2 linked regions of the Homo sapiens genome follow. The protein of the gene in region 1 interacts with the protein of each later gene in a pairwise test. Each region holds a gene or a part of one and is shown in the gene's direction. Other genes may lie near its edges. The genes, in order: ACVRL1 and PEG10.

The links.
Region 2: the proteins of ACVRL1 (region 1) and PEG10 interact in a two-hybrid assay, tested with the Homo sapiens proteins (one study listed by BioGRID).

What each region holds. Positions count from the first base shown.
Region 1 is NC_000012.12:51,917,295-51,921,213, forward strand, and holds part of ACVRL1 (activin receptor type-1-like isoform 1 precursor), read left to right. Parts: intron 1-248; coding exon of another isoform or gene 249-404; intron 405-1,690; coding exon 1,691-1,821; coding exon of another isoform or gene 1,822-1,929; exon of another isoform or gene 1,930-2,693; intron 2,694-3,464; coding exon 3,465-3,599; 3' UTR 3,600-3,919. UniProt on the Homo sapiens protein: Type I receptor for TGF-beta family ligands BMP9/GDF2 and BMP10 and important regulator of normal blood vessel development. On ligand binding, forms a receptor complex consisting of two type II and two type I transmembrane serine/threonine kinases.
Region 2 is NC_000007.14:94,666,363-94,670,281, forward strand, and holds the end of PEG10 (retrotransposon-derived protein PEG10), read left to right. Parts: 3' UTR 1-3,333; downstream 3,334-3,919.

The sequences.
Region 1 (3,919 bases):
TGCACTGCCTGCTTATTGCTGCCTGGTTGTTACTGTGGGTTGCCACAGGGGACTCTGATTTAGAGGGACTGCGACAGGTAGAGAGACCTGCCCTGGGCAGGCAGCCCTGAGGTCGATGTTCTCTCAGCCCTGGAGTGGACGGAGGATAGGTGGGTCGTCTAGACTGGTGGGAGCATTGTCAACCTTTGAGGAGGCTGTCCATGGTGAGGGACTTCCAGGAGTCGTGACAGGTTGGGGACAATCCTCAGGATATGGCTGGAGCCCTGCTTCTTGGGGACAAGGATGTCCTCATTTCCTGAGCATCTACCAGGAGCCAGCCCCATGCCAGACTTCATTTGTCCTCGGTGGTCATCAACTGAAAACAGAGGCTGTGGTGTCACCGGTCCCTTGGGGAGACTCACGAGGTGCTTAGATTCCTCAAGACTCCGGGCATGAATTGCCAGAGTGGGCTCTAAGGAGACCGGGATCGGGGGAAAGAGGAACCTGGAAGAAGCCAAGGCTCCTTGGACCAGGCTGCAGGGCAGAAAGGAAAGGCTGGGAGGAGGCTGCCTGGGGTGGAGGGGGAAGCTCCATCAGCCCCACACGGACTCGCGGCGCATTATAAACACTGTAATCTGGTGTCAGCCCCGGCACTGATTAAAGGCCCATTAGACACATTCAGGCCTCTGTGCAGCACTGATTAGGGCGTGAGCGGCACAGGGGCCGGCCTGGAAGCTGGCCATGGGGAGAACAGCTGGCGAAGGCTCTATCGAGGTTGCGGCCTGTGTGGCCATGGCCCCCAGCCTCAGGCTGGGAAACAGGATGGGGCACGGGGCTGTCTGCGGCTCCACCGGCATTGTTTTCAGAAAGCTCCTACTAAAAACTGTGAACTTGGGATACCAAGAGGAGGGGGTCAGTGCTGGCTGCAGGAGTCAGCAGAGGCCTGTGCCATCCCTGACACTGGGTGATGTTATGTGGACCTGGGTAAAAAGATAAGTGCAGCTCAGAGGTCAAGAGCACATGCTTTGGTGTTAGACTGTGGGCTTAAATCCTAGCCCTGTCACTTACTATCTGTTGATCTTAGACAAGTTTCTTAAACTCTCTGGCCTTCATTTCTTGGCTTATAAAGTGGAGCTCATAGTATTACCTACCTCATAGGGCTGCTGTGAGGATTTCATGCAGAGCTCTTAGGACAGCACCTGGCATACAGTGCTCAGTAAACATTTGGTGTTATTATTATCAGGCATGTGTGATAGTTGGGGCCTGGGAGCAGTCCCGGGCACTGGGTGGAAGGCAGCTGAGGGAAGACTGGAACAAGGCTGGCCTAGGAATCCGAGATGGGTTTGAGTCTTGCCTCTGCCATTACTAGCTGTGGAACCTTGGGCCCCCCTTCTCTGAGCATCAGTTTCTTCATCTGTAAAATGGAGGTAATACTAGTACCCACCCCACAGGGCTGTTGTGAGGACAAACAGGATAAAGCATGTAAAGTGTTTACAGCAGAATATCTGGCACATGCCATGTGCAAAACAAATGGCAGTCATTAACATTAGTTAGAAACACATTTATTGCATTATACTGTCCCTCTCAGGGGTAGCGTGTCCAGGCCACTGGTTTCTGGCCCTTGGATAGAGGGTAGAAAAGGCTCTCCTCTGGGTGGTATTGGGCCTCCTTAGAGTCCCAAGTGATTGTCCTGTCCATTCTCCATTTCCAGGCATCGTGGAGGACTATAGACCACCCTTCTATGATGTGGTGCCCAATGACCCCAGCTTTGAGGACATGAAGAAGGTGGTGTGTGTGGATCAGCAGACCCCCACCATCCCTAACCGGCTGGCTGCAGACCCGGTGAGGCCTCTGCTGGGACTAGGATGGCGTGGGGTGGTGGCTCATGGCTGGGATTTCTGGGCCCAGGAACTTGTGTCTGAGGCCTCTGCTTCATCTCATAGATACTGAGTGTCCTGGTTAGGGCACCTCTCTAGGTACTCCCTCTTTCAACCCTGGCCCATGCTCCCTGCCCCCAGGGCCATCTGGTCATTCTGGGATTTTAAGAACCTTCACCTTCCCTGTGAAAAGTCAGAGGCTATCTGTGGCTCTGTGTGTGTGTGTGTGTGTGTGTGTGTGTGTGTGTGTGTGTTTGAGAGTCAGGGTTTTGTTTGCTCTTGTCACCCAGGCTGGGGTGCAGTGGCACAGTCATAGCTCACTGTAACCTCAAACTCCTCGGCTCAACTGATCCTACTGCCTCAGCCTCCCCAGTAGCTAGGTGTAGTGCACACCACCACACCTGGCTAATTTTTAAAATTTTTTGTAGAGACAAGGTCTTTTATGTTGCTCAGGCTTATCTCAAACTCTTGGGCTCAAGTGATCCTCCTGCCTCAGCCTCCCAAAGTGTTGGGATTATAGGTGTGAGCCTCCACACCTGACCACTGTGGTATTTTTGTTGCTATTTGTCTTTGTTTGTTGCTGTTTTGTTGTTGTTTGTCCTTGTTTTTTCTCAAAACACTTCACTTGTACAAAGACACACACACGTATATCAACACATACAAGCGTGAATATCCTTCTGAACATACACTCACAGAAATATACACATGCGCATATATGCCAGACTGTTGGCCCCGTGAGGACAAAGAACGTGTCTTTTGCTCACCCTTATGTCCCTATTACCTATCATAGTATCTGGCTCACAATAGGTGCTAATAAATATTTACTGAAAGAATGAATATATTCTATACATGTATACATCTATGTGTACATAGACATACATTTCTGTACAACATATCCGCAAAAAGCCACATGTATGCATTCCTGTACACACACACATACACTCACTTTCAGGAGCCAGAAGTGGGGCCAGCTCATTTCAGGCCCTGGGATGGGTTGATGAGCTTCCTGGGATGGGTTGATGAGCTTTTTGGGATGGGTTGCTCCCTGGACACTTGCATTTTTAGGGCAGTTCCCACTTCCACAGTCCCCTGGGCCCAGCCATGGCTGATGGAGGGGCTGGAAGACACTGCCCTCTGCACTGGGGTCTTAGGCTGTGGATGGGGATGTGGGAGCCCCCAGGCTTGAAGAATCGGCCCCTTCCTATGGATCTTGGCAAAGGTGGGGATGGGGGTAAGGTGTTTCACAGACACTGCTTGCCCAAGGGGGCTTGAGTGCTCCTGAAGATCTGAGTTCTCTCTTTCTGTCCGCCCTGTCTTTCTCCATCCCTTTCTCACTCTACTCTCTTCCTCTTCCATTTTTTATTTTTTTGTCATCCTCTGTTCTCTCTCTCACCACTTGTCTTTCCTCTCGCTCTCCTTTCCAATGCTCTCATCTCCCTCCTCTCATCCTTTCTCTCCTGCTTATGTCTCCCCATTACCGGCCATCCTCCTCATCTTCTTCCCATCTTCTCTGACCCACCTCCCTCTGCATCTCTCTCCCGACCCCCTCCTCTTCTCTGCATCTCTCTCTCTGCCTCCTCTCCTCTGCACCTCTCTCCCAACCCCCAGGTCCTCTCAGGCCTAGCTCAGATGATGCGGGAGTGCTGGTACCCAAACCCCTCTGCCCGACTCACCGCGCTGCGGATCAAGAAGACACTACAAAAAATTAGCAACAGTCCAGAGAAGCCTAAAGTGATTCAATAGCCCAGGAGCACCTGATTCCTTTCTGCCTGCAGGGGGCTGGGGGGGTGGGGGGCAGTGGATGGTGCCCTATCTGGGTAGAGGTAGTGTGAGTGTGGTGTGTGCTGGGGATGGGCAGCTGCGCCTGCCTGCTCGGCCCCCAGCCCACCCAGCCAAAAATACAGCTGGGCTGAAACCTGATCCCCTGCTGTCTGGCCTGCTCAAAGCGGCAGGCTCCCTGACGCCTGGCTCTCTCCCCACCCCTATGGCCAGCATGGTGCACCCCCTACCACTCCCGGGACAGGATGCAAAAGAGGCTCCAGAGTCAGAGTGCCAAGCCAGGG
Region 2 (3,919 bases), on another chromosome or scaffold:
TCAGGCCTGAAAAGAAAGTGCTCTCTCAGATGGACTCTTGCATGTTAAGACTATGTCTTCACATCATGGTGCAAATCACATGTACCCAATGACTCCGGCTTTGACACAACACCTTACCATCATCATGCCATGATGGCTTCCACAAAGCATTAAACCTGGTAACCAGAGATTACTGGTGGCTCCAGCGTTGTTAGATGTTCATGAAATGTGACCACCTCTCAATCACCTTTGAGGGCTAAAGAGTAGCACATCAAAAGGACTCCAAAATCCCATACCCAACTCTTAAGAGATTTGTCCTGGTACTTCAGAAAGAATTTTCATGAGTGTTCTTAATTGGCTGGAAAAGCACCAGCTGACGTTTTGGAAGAATCTATCCATGTGTCTGCCTCCATATGCATCTGGGCATTTCATCTTCAGTCCCCTCATTAGACTGTAGCATTAGGATGTGTGGAGAGAGGAGAAATGATTTAGCACCCAGATTCACACTCCTATGCCTGGAAGGGGGACATCTTTGAAGAAGAGGAATTAGGGCTGTGGACACTGTCTTGAGGATGTGGACTTCCTTAGTGAGCTCCACATTACTTGATGGTAACCACTTCAAAAGGATCAGAATCCACGTAATGAAAAAGGTCCCTCTAGAGGATGGAGCTGATGTGAAGCTGCCAATGGATGAAAAGCCTCAGAAAGCAACTCAAAGGACTCAAAGCAACGGACAACACAAGAGTTGTCTTCAGCCCAGTGACACCTCTGATGTCCCCTGGAAGCTTTGTGCTAACCTGGGACTGCCTGACTTCCTTTAGCCTGGTCCCTTGCTACTACCTTGAACTGTTTTATCTAACCTCTCTTTTTCTGTTTAATTCTTTGCTACTGCCATTGACCCTGCTGCAGGATTTGTGTCATTTTCCTGCCTGGTTGCTGAGACTCCATTTTGCTGCCACACACAGAGATGTAAGAGGCAGGCTTTAATTGCCAAAGCACAGTTTGAGCAGTAGAAAACAACATGGTGTATATCTCAAATTGCCTGACATGAAGAGGAGTCTAACGGTGAAGTTTCACTTTTCATCAGCATCATCTTTCACATGTTCATTATCATCTGCTCTTATTCTTGCATGTTTAAACACTTAAAATTTTTAGTATAATTTTTAGTGTGTTTTGAAGTGGTGACTAGGCTTTCAAAAACTTCCATTGAATTACAAAGCACTATCCAGTTCTTATTGTTAAACTAAGTAAAAATGATAAGTAACATAGTGTAAAATATTCCTTTACTGTGAACTTCTTACAATGCTGTGAATGAGAGGCTCCTCAGAACTGGAGCATTTGTATAATAATTCATCCTGTTCATCTTCAATTTTAACATCATATATAATTTCAATTCTATCAATTGGGCCTTTAAAAATCATATAAAAGGATATAAAATTTGAAAAGAGAAACCTAATTGGCTATTTAATCCAAAACAACTTTTTTTTTCCTTCAATGGAATCAGAAAGCTTGTCAATCACTCATGTGTTTTAGAGTAATTACTTTTAAAATGGTGCATTTGTGCTTCTGAACTATTTTGAAGAGTCACTTCTGTTTACCTCAAGTATCAATTCATCCTCCATACATTTGAATTCAAGTTGTTTTTTTGTCAAATTTACAGTTGTCAATTGATCTTCAAGCTGCAGGGTGCCTAGAAATGGGCCGTTGTCTGTAGCCCTGGCATGTGCACACGGACATTTGCCACCACTGCAAGCAAAAGTCTGGAGAAGTTCACCAACGACAAGAACGATTAGGGAAAATATGCTGCTGTGGGTTAACAACTCAGAAAGTCCCTGATCCACATTTGGCTGTTTACTAAAGCTTGTGATTAACTTTTTGGCAGTGTGTACTATGCTCTATTGCTATATATGCTATCTATAAATGTAGATGTTAAGGATAAGTAATTCTAAATTTATTATTCTATAGTTTTGAAGTTTGGTTAAGTTTCCTTTCACTCAATTGATTTATTTTGTTGTTAATCAAATTTATGTTAATTGGATCCTTTAAATTTTTTTTGGCATTTTCCAACAAAAATGGCTTTATTCATAAGAAAGGAAAAAAATCAATGGAATTTGATATCTAAAGAAGTTAGAAAGGGAGCAAAATAAAAAACATAAAGGAGATAGATGAATTAGTAAGCAAATCAGTAGTCGAGTTTTTCAAACTGGCAAAATTAATTAATTGACTTTTAGCCCAAATTTACATTGTTAATTAAATCAAGAAGGAAGAAGATCTAAGAGCTCCCATTGATAGGCAAGCCTAGAGAGAACTAGCTAAATTTATCATGCTAGGATATTGAAACACAGAAAGTTTACATACATTTATGAAGGGTCAATTTAGTTTGGACAGTGAGGTATTTGTCTTAGTGGAAAAAAGGAGAATTAGTCTGATCAAATCGTGAAGTAATACAGTGAACTTGCAGGTGCACAAAATAAGAGGGCCACATCTATATGGTGCAGTCTGGAATTCTGTTTAAGTTTGTAGGTACCTCTTGGACTTCTGAATTGATCCAGTTGTCATCCACCACAGACATCTCACATCAGATACAGACAGTTCCAAGATTGACAACAGAGAACAACCTGCTGGAAAGACCTGGGCAGAAATGGAGAGCCCTGCGGGAACCATGCTACATTTTCATCTAAAGAGAGAATGCACATCTGATGAGACTGAAAGTTCTTTGTTGTTTTAGATTGTAGAATGGTATTGAATTGGTCTGTGGAAAATTGCATTGCTTTTATTTCTTTGTGTAATCAAGTTTAAGTAATAGGGGATATATAATCATAAGCATTTTAGGGTGGGAGGGACTATTAAGTAATTTTAAGTGGGTGGGGTTATTTAGAATGTTAGAATAATATTATGTATTAGATATCGCTATAAGTGGACATGCGTACTTACTTGTAACCCTTTACCCTATAATTGCTATCCTTAAAGATTTCAAATAAACTCGGAGGGAACTGCAGGGAGACCAACTTATTTAGAGCGAATTGGACATGGATAAAAACCCCAGTGGGAGAAAGTTCAAAGGTGATTAGATTAATAATTTAATAGAGGATGAGTGACCTCTGATAAATTACTGCTAGAATGAACTTGTCAATGATGGATGGTAAATTTTCATGGAAGTTATAAAAGTGATAAATAAAAACCCTTGCTTTTACCCCTGTCAGTAGCCCTCCTCCTACCACTGAACCCCATTGCCCCTACCCCTCCTTCTAACTTTATTGCTGTATTCTCTTCACTCTATATTTCTCTCTATTTGCTAATATTGCATTGCTGTTACAATAAAAATTCAATAAAGATTTAGTGGTTAAGTGCAAACTGTGTCCTGATCATTTCAGCATCTACCAGCATCAAGGGAATGGGGTGGGGTAGGGTGGGGAAGGCTGAGAGAGTAGGGAGAGTGGGAGAGGCTAGAGTAGGGTGGGGCTGTGGGGAGGGTGGGATTGTTGGAAGGGTAGGGAGGTAGGAGGGTGGGTAGGGTAGGGGTGGAATTGAGTTTGGGATAGTGGGGTGGTGGTATAAAGAACATTATTGATTACAACCTAGTATGAATTATATAGCCAGAATACTCCAGGAAATCAGTTATTCCAGCTGCAAAAGTTTAACATATAAAATAAAGATACACAATTAATAGCAACTCTGGTTGCTATTATCACAAACTTTAACATCAGTTTTACTTTAAATACTTGAGATTCATTAATATAAAATTATGAAGTATTAGGACATAGAAGAAGAGTTTCAAAGGGCTGCTAGGTTCATATGACATGACAGTCACATAAATATGACTGTTTATTGGGAAGATAGTGACTAAAAGGAAAAATCTAGAACTAATGAAAACACACAACTAAAAACTGTCTACCCTCAGAAGCAGGCTACCAGAGTAGCTATCCATCAAGCAGAGCTC